Homo sapiens: one gene and its partner. The protein of the gene in region 1 purifies or fractionates together with the protein of each later gene. This does not show direct contact. Each region holds a gene or a part of one and is shown on either strand. Other genes may lie near its edges.

Region 1 (4,115 bases):
GAAGTAGTGGTTACTCCTTTTATCTCTAATGGTTCCAATGTCATTTTAGATCTACACTTAGGTACACCTAGGAATCCCATCTGACATTTAGAAATTCCATCTCTTAATCCGAGGAAAATCTTGGCTTGAAAGTAATGGCACCAGCCCCTTAAAATGGCACCTATGTGCGAATACCACTAATTTTTAGTTAATTTTAGGGCTGTTACTCTAAAACAAAAAAGTTCTTTTGAAATTCTAATTCAAAAAGCAATGAGTTTTAAAATAACCCTTTCCATGTTATAAAATACTTATATGCTCATTGTAGAACATCTGGGAAATCAGAAAACTGTAAAAAAAATTTTTTTAAACCCTCAAAAATCCATAAGTCTATCAATAGCTATCAATTCTATCTATAGCTACTGTAAACGTTGTGGTACATCTCTTTCAATATTTAAGTGCCTTGATATATTTATTTTCACGGTTGAGATCAGAATTTGTGGTTTTGCAACCCGAATTTTCCATTTAAAAATATAATAAGAACTTACTTCCCCAGTCATTAATCTTCCTAAACATAATTCTTAAGTTTGTAAAAAATCCATCCTACAGATACACCTAAAAGTCAGTTTATTTACTTTGTTTCCCCAGGAAAGAATCCTACATGACCATGGTTCTGGGCCTGTGTAAGTGCTGCCTTGTGAACAGTGTAGATAAGATCACAGAATCATCCTCCAAATAAAGTACTTAAAGCCAATGTAAAAGTTTTTCGAAGGCAAAGGGGCACTGTGAATCCAGCATTTTCCAGTGTTCCCTAGACGTGAATCATCTCAAAGAGAGGCCATTATTCGAGTGCAACAGGGCTCCACGCCTCCAGCGATGTCAAAGTTCTGCTAAGCGTCCAAAACCTAGCAAAAGGTTCCAATGGGCCATTGGAACTCGGCGGCCGCGGCGGAGGCTGCTCCCAAGGCGGCAGCAATCACACCGGGACCGGCTGCAGAGTTCCCAGTCCCGCGGAGCGCTAGCTGCCGGGCGGACGCGGAAGCCCGAGAGTCCTGGTCTTCCCGTCCAAGTTTAATCCGCGCCTACGCGGTAAATTCCTGGAGGTGCTCCCAGCCTAGCCCGCTGCGCCCGGCTCCGCGCCTGGGCAACCCGGGCTCCCTCCCGTCCCTGGCGCCCTCCGCACCCGCCTAAGGCGCGGCGGTCGAGCCCTGGCTGCGCCCTGTGGGCGCGCTCCTCCGAATCCCAAGTTCGGGTCGCGAGTCTGAACTTGGGAGGAACGCGCCCCGGGTCCCCGCCCTTCCCGGACTGCCCGATCCCCATCCCCCGCAACCGGGAGCGCGCAGGCGCAGCCGGCCGGCAGTCCCGTCAGCTGTCCCAGAGCCTGTGTCGCGCCCGTGCCGGTAGCGCCCGTGCCGGTAGCGCCGCTGCCACCGCTCACCATGGGCCCGGGTCCTCGGCTGCTGCTACCTCTCGTGCTTTGCGTGGGGCTCGGCGCACTTGTGTTTTCTTCGGGGGCCGAGGGCTTCCGCAAGCGAGGCCCCTCGGTGACGGCCAAGGTGACCGAGAGCGGCGGGCTGCAACTTCCCCTGTTGCGGGCGGGGCCCTGGGGGCGCTTTGGATACTGGGACCTCGGTGTCAGGGCGGGCGAGGTGGAGGCTTCCCGGGCGCAGGGGGACTGGAGGCGGCCGCGGGACTGGGTGGGAGGGGGCTGCTCGCGTGCTGGGAGGCCGGCGCTCCGGGGGAGACCCTGGGGGAGCTGGGCTGAGGCCAGCCTACCTCCGCCGCAGTCTGCTTGGACTTCTTGTCCCGGGTCGGTAGTCCGAGGTGACCAGCCTGGGGGTAGGAGAGGCTTCCGGAACCGGCGGGCCCGTTCTCCAGGAAAGAGACTGCCCAAGTACTTCCTTCAGCGTGGCCTGGGCTCGGGAGCAGAACGAGAGGAATGCGGGGAGGGGGGCGGGACCCGCACAGGAGAGGCGCTCGGAGCCCAGGGCTTGCAGCCGCCCGCCCGCTGCGTGGTCTCCACGCTGGCCGCGGTGGCTTCAGGCAGGCATTAAAGCGCCTGGTTCAGATGAGAGACTACCCTCCGCCTCTTTTGGGGAACCGTCGTCCTTCCCGGGAAGGGGAGGTGCGCCTTCAACTTCGGCGGGCGGGCGGCCCCTGCTGTGGGCTACGCGAGGCCGGGCGAAGGCGGCACCTGTAGACCTGGGGCAGCCTCCACTGCGGGGAAAGGGGGCGGGGGGCTGCCAGAAAGTGCGTCTTTAAGGCTTCCTCGTACTTAACTCCGCTTCAGTTCTTTTTTCAGCGTATTTAACCAAGGGTAGACGATAATGGGAGAATGCAGGGAGAGGGAGGGGATAATTTGGTGCCCATGATCACCACTTCTAGAAAACCCACTGGCAATAGTGTCTTCGAAGCTGAAGCTGGAGGGGGCGGGCTGCAGCTGAAAGTGGTCTTCATCAGTCTGGGGTTTGTCAATGGAAACGATACTAATCAACGAGTAGAATGCTTACATCCTCGACCGCAGACGCCACCTGAGGACGGGGAGGACTAGGGGGTGGGGAGGAGGAGGTCCAGCTCAGCATCTGATGTCGCAGAAAGGCCGTGCCACGTTGTGGGCGGGGCTGATAAACAGCCTGATGGTTTCGAGAAGCTCTGATCTTACTCCCAGCCTCTTGATCTTGTAGGCATGTCTAACTTTGGGAAATGGTTTGTGCAAGGCCACAGAGCTGAACGGGGTCTCTTGGGATAAAGCCATAAACATAAAATTCGCACAATTATGAAATGTTGGAGGAAATAAACTGTAATATACTTTGGGTGACATTTAAAAATAGCTGAAAAATGAGAAAAACCAGCGCAGAGAAGACTAAGGAGGCAAAGGGAACTGCATATGCATAGGTCCTCAAACAGGAAAGCCCTCCCTGCATTCAGAGGATGTGGAGAGGACGGAATGGCTTCAGCACAGAATGAGAGGTGACTTGAGATGAGGTTGGAGGGGTGAGCAGCAGCGGAATCACACAGGGCCTTAGAGGCTGCAGGTAGGCATGCGGGTATTGAGGCAATTCTTAAAATTTGAAGTGTTATTCTGCAGTCAGAGCCACTGAAGGGTTTTAAGCATAAGAATGGCATGATCTCAATATATACTCGAGAAATTTATGTGGTCACTCAGTGGAGAGTGAAATGGGAGGTCATTCAGGGCACCATGCCAGAGTCCAGATGGTGGCTTGGATTAGGGTGGTAATCATTGAAATGGGGAGCAAGGGAAGGACTTGAAATAGATTTTGGAGATATAACTAACAGGAGTTGCTGACGGTTTAGAAAGGGGGCGAGGGAGAGGGAATAGGATTGCCAAATAAAATACAGGATGCCCAGTTAGATGTGAATATCAGATTAACAATGAATAAATGTTTTTAGTGTAAGTACGTCCCCTGCAATATTTGGGAACAGGTTTCACCTGGGAAACTTCTTAAACTTACTGATGCAGTGACCCACCCCAGAGCAAGTCAATCACAATCTGTATGGGTGGGGCTCAGTATCCTATCTTTTAGAAGCTTTTGGTGATTCTGATGTGCAGGCAGTGTGGGCGGGGAACCACTGGAAGATGGAGCCAAGAGAGGAGGAAGCTGGTGGCTGCAGGAGGGGAAGGGTTTGAGCATCCTAAACCCTTGTCTGTGACACTGTCACTGAGGGAGAGTTTGCATGCACCCTACTCTCAGAATTGTTACTTAACATGTCTTTTTTCCCCCTACCAAATTTGTCATTAAGTTTTTCTAAAAGCTGATTGTGTAGGTGCGTCTTAAACAGATTCTGCTCTGTTAAATTACTTTTTCATGAACTTGTAAAGACAACTAAATCTATTGGAAAATGACGTTAAAAATAATTTCTCTGAGTGCAGACAAGTACATTAATTGGCCATTGCTCTAGTGTATTGTTTTCCCCAGCAGTGTTTTTGTTTACCTCTGATTTCATTTAAAAATAGGAATCTGTAAATAAGAGAGGTGTGAGGTGCTATTCTGCCCACATGGCCCATTAGTGGCACTAACTTGGTCCACAGATCCTGCTGCTGGGCCAGCCTGGCAGCTTCCTGCCCCAGCCATAGAGGCTCAGGTGGGGGCTCTGGCTCATTGGGCTCCAAATCCACA
Region 2 (4,733 bases), on another chromosome or scaffold:
TTGATGTATCCACCTATAATTGTATATTTGTCAATTCCTCTTTCAATTGTATCAGTTTTGCTTTATACATTTTGCAGCTTTGTTTGGTGTATACACATTTGGGGTCACTTTACAAGGCTCTGTTTATTTTTTTTTCTGTCTAGTTTTTTTGTTTCTTTGTGGGTTTTTTTGTTTGTTTTTGTTTTTTTTTTGTTTTTGTTTTTCAGACGAAGTCTCGCTCTGTTGCCCAGGCTGGAGTGCAGTGGTGCGATCTCAGCTCACTGCAACCTCTGCCTCCTGGGTTCAAGCGATTCTCTTGCCTCAGCCTCCTGAGTAGCTGGGATTACAGGTGTGCGCCACCATGCCCTGCTAATTTTTGTATTTTTAGTAGATATGGGGTTTCACCATGTTGGTCAGGCTGGTCTCAAACTTCTCATCTCAGGTGATCCATCCACCTCGGCCTCCCAAAGTGCAGGGATTACAGGTGTGAGCCACCACGCCCAGCCTTTTTTTGGTATTTTTAGTAGAGACAGGGTTTCGCCATGTTGGCCAGGCTGGTCTAGAACTCCCGACCACAGGTGATCCGCCCGCCTCAGCCTCCTAAAGTGCTGGGTTTACAGGCGTGAGCCACTGTGCCCAGCCTTTTCTGTCTAGTTTGTTTCTGTTGCTCAGTTGACATTTTCTGTTGTTTTGTCTTCCAATTCACTAATCTCTCTATCCCCTTCATTCTGCTGAGTCCATCCACTGAGCTTTTTATTTTGGTTATTATATTATTCAATTATAAAATTTCCATTTTTTTTTTTTTTGTCTATCTACTGTGTTGAGGCTTCTTTATTTAAGAAAAAAGTGATACATGATGTGGGATTAAAATCAAGAACATCATTGAACTTCACCTTCCCTCCAACCAGTTGCCCCAAACTCCCCTGCCCCCACCCTTTGTGTTCCCAATTCCTTCCTTAGTGAATGAAGAACTTAATCCCAAAAGCCCTGGCACAAACTCCAGGTGCTCTTTCCCTAGCTCCTCCCCTCCCCCTGTCCCCCATTCCTAGAAGGGCAGGCACCTCAGTTTGAATGCATGGGAGAGCCCAGAGTGGTGACGGAGACAGGGGGAAAGGCTTCCCCCTCAGGGAAAGGGACCGAGGAGTACAGTGCAGTGAAGTGAGGGCTCCCATAGCCTGGGGTACCAAAATGGGGCCCTGGGGCCAGAGGAAAGGACACTGGTCCCCCTGAGAAAGGAGACCCAACAGCCTCAAAATCCTCTCGTTGTGCATAGCCACTGCTTGATCGCTTGCCCTTCTGGCGCCGGTTACAGAACCACACTCGGACCACATCCTTCTCCAGCCCAAGCTGCTGGGCGATGTGGCTGATCTGCTGCAGTGTGGGTTTCGGGCACCGCAGGAACAAATTCTCCAGGTTGCCTCTCACTTGGTTCTCGATACTGGTTCGCTTTCTCTTTCGGGCCTGCACGAGGGTTTCTGCTTTGCATATCTCCTGAAGATTTTCATTGTTGTCAGCTTCCTCCACCCACTTCTGCAGCAAGGGCCGCAGCTCACACATGTTCTTGAAGCTAAGCTGCAGAGCCTCAAAGCGGCAGATGGTCGTTTGGCTGAACACCTTCCCAAATAGAACCCCCAGGGTGAGCCACATCGGCCTGTGTATATCCCAGGGTGATCCTCTTCTGCTTCAGGAGCTTGGCAAATTGCTCGAGTTCTTTCTGCAGAGCTTTGATGTCCTGGGACTCCTCCGGGTTTTGCTCCAGCTTCTCCTTCTCCAGCTTCACGGCACCAGAGGGGACGGTGCAGGGCTCCGGGGAGGCCCCATCGGAGTTGCTCTCCACCCCGACTCCTGCTTCGCCCTCAGGCTGAGAGGTCTCCAAGCCGTCTTGGGGCACTAGCCCCACTCCAGTCTGAGGCCCACAGTACGCCATCCCCCCGCAGAACTCATACGGCGGGGGACATGGGGGAATCCCCCACTCCTCAGAGCCTGGCCCAAACCCCGGCCCGATTCCTGGCCCTCCAGGAGGGCCTTGGAAGCTTAGCCAGGTCCGAGGATCAACCCAGCCCGGCTCCGGCCCCCCTGGCCCATCACCTCCACCGCCTGGAGGGGGTGAGAAGGCGAAATCCGAAGCCAGGTGTCCCGCCATGGGGAAGGAAGGCGCCCCAAGCATGGTGAAATCTTGGTTTTTCTTTATATCTTCTAGTTCTTTGCTGAAACTTTCTAGTTTTTCATTTGTTTCAAGCATGTCTGTATCTTCTTGTTGAAGCGTTTTTGTTTTTTGTTTTTTTTTAATCATGGCTGCTTTTAAATCTTTGTCAGATAATTCTAACAATTTTATTATCTTTTTTTTTTTTTTTTTTTTTTGAGACAGGTTCTCGCTGTGTTGCCCAGGCTGGTCTTGAACTTCTGGGATCAAGCGATTCTTCTGCCTCAGCCTCCCAAAGTGCTGGGATTACAGATGTGAGCCACCGTGCCCGGCCCCATTTTTGTTGTCTTGATTGTAGGCATCTATTGATTATTATATTTTATTAAATTTGAAAACTTACTGGTTCTTAGCATAATGACTTATTTTCTATTGAACTCTGGATATTTTTGCATTATATTCTCAGAGTCTGGATCTTATTTAAACATGTTTTCGTAATAGCTGGGCTTTTCAGATGGCACTTCAGCAGGAGAAAAGGGGCCCTGCCTCATTACTGCCTGATTGAGGTAGACTTGGCTTCCTTGACACCTGAGGGGCAGGGGCTCCTGGTTGCATCTGAGTGTGGAGGGGAGTTCCAGCTTCCATGTGCTCTCTCTTGGCTCTTAATTTTAATAATACACACACTTTTAAGAGTGATTATTTATATTGCACGTATGTGCCCCTCTTCCCAATACAGAGACAGCCTGGAGCTGTTGCCCAAAGAATTGGAAGTCATTTAGTTCCAACTGCTACTTTATTTCTACTGAATCAGCATCTTGGCAAGACAGTGAGAAGGACTGTGCTAGAATGGAGGCTCACCTGCTGGTGATAAACACTCAAGAAGAGCAGGTACTTTCTAATAGATAATGGGGCTGTGAGCCCTGCCTGATCTTTGTATATCTCTCTTGGCTAAGAAGGAGGTTTTTGTTACTTTGGGATATTTGCGCTGTGGCAGAAGGCTTTCAATAAAATAGGTAGAAAGGGCTCCTAAGCCTTTATATTCCATACCTCCTTCCTGCTTCAGTAAAACTAACCTCCCCGGAAGAAATTGTGACATTAAAAATATATGAGGGTTGAATGGAAGGATGAAAATGTTTCAGTCTGAAATATCAATTTGTTATTTCAATATGTAAATGTTTTATACATGATTAACTACTTAACAAAGAAGAGGTATTAAGTTGAATAGAGAAAAGAAATAAAGTTAACTCATGATGAATCACAATCAACACTCAGGAATGAAAATAAAGAATCCCTGAAGTTATGAAAGGAAAATGACTGAATCTGCCAAAATTTTCTCATGTACAACTTTGAAGAATGTAATCCCTTAGTGAAGAAAAGAGGGGAAGTAAACCTGAGATGAGAATTCATTCTGATCATAGAAATTGCTTCCATACTGGCTGGGCATGCTAGCTCATGCCTGTAATCCCAGCACTTTGGGAGGCCAAGGCGGGCGGATCACTTGAGGCCGGGAGTTCAAGACCAGCTTGGCCAAAATGGTGAAACCCAGCCTCTACTAAAAATACAAAAATTAGCCAGGCATGGTGGCACACACCTGTAGTCCCAGCTACTGGGGAGGCTGAGGCATGAGAATCGCTTAAGCCTGGGAGGCAGAGGTGCAGTGAGCCAAGATTGCACCACTGCACTCCAGCCTGGGACAGAAAGTGAGACTCCATCTCAAAAAAAAAAAAAAAAAAAAATTCCTTCCGTATGTACTGAACATCATGCTTACAAGCGATGTCTTTGATTCTGCCCTGCTCAGCCAGAGATCCCCATTCCTACGTAGAGCTCTAATGCAGCTGTTGCTGGATCCTCTCCTTTTCTTCTTGTTTCTCTAAGGTATTAAGAATTCAGTTTAAGCTGAATACTGTAAAGGCTGTGACTCCTTCTTTTCCCCCCTCAGGATTTCATCTTCCAGAATCTGCAAGAAGAATCTGCTTATTTTGTGGGGCTCTCAGATCCAGAAGGTCAGCGACATTGGCAATGGGTTGATCAGACACCATACAATGAAAGTTCCACGTGAGTATAGAATGAGATAAAAGAATCTTGGGTCCTGGATCATGCAGAGAGCTTAGGGTATTCTAGCTATCAGCTATAAAAGTAAAATAGCTCACTCTTCTTTTAGCTCTTGGGTACTAGGTTAAATAATTTCATTATCTCATTTAATCTGCGCAAGAACCCTATGAGGCACACATTGTTATTTTTCCCACTGTAGATATGAGGAAATTGAGCTTGGAGAGTGTAGATAATTCAGCTAAGGTCACCCAGTGGTGTCAACAATTGTTCTCAAATCAGGTGGATCTTACTGTGCTTTTAACCCGTATATTTACCTGTCTCTACATAGTGAAAACCCATGTTGATTAAGATCATAACCAATTATTAAGATTTAATAATGCTTTTTTTTTCTTTTTTGAGACAGGGTCTTACTCTGTCAACCAGGCTGGAGTGCAGTGGTGCAATCATGGCTCACTGCAGCCTTGAATTCCTGGGCTCAACTGATCCTCCCACCCAAGTCTTCTGAGTTGCTAGGATGACAAGTATGTGCCACCACACCCAGTCAGGCTGAAGATGTAATGCT

What was found. Proteins that work in one complex are often made in the same cells at the same time.
Region 2: the proteins of PPIC (region 1) and CLEC4A purify together in Homo sapiens (co-immunoprecipitation; one large-scale study listed by IntAct). This does not show direct contact.

What each region holds. Positions count from the first base shown.
Region 1 is NC_000005.10:123,033,926-123,038,040, reverse strand, and holds the start of PPIC (peptidyl-prolyl cis-trans isomerase C precursor), read left to right. Parts: upstream 1-1,315; 5' UTR 1,316-1,415; coding exon 1,416-1,532; intron 1,533-1,752; exon of another isoform or gene 1,753-2,119; intron 2,120-4,115. UniProt on the Homo sapiens protein: PPIase that catalyzes the cis-trans isomerization of proline imidic peptide bonds in oligopeptides and may therefore assist protein folding.
Region 2 is NC_000012.12:8,132,730-8,137,462, forward strand, and holds part of CLEC4A (C-type lectin domain family 4 member A), read left to right. Parts: intron 1-1,039; exon of another isoform or gene 1,040-2,123; intron 2,124-2,855; coding exon 2,856-3,007; intron 3,008-4,058; coding exon 4,059-4,174; intron 4,175-4,733. UniProt on the Homo sapiens protein: C-type lectin receptor that binds carbohydrates mannose and fucose but also weakly interacts with N-acetylglucosamine (GlcNAc) in a Ca(2+)-dependent manner. Involved in regulating immune reactivity.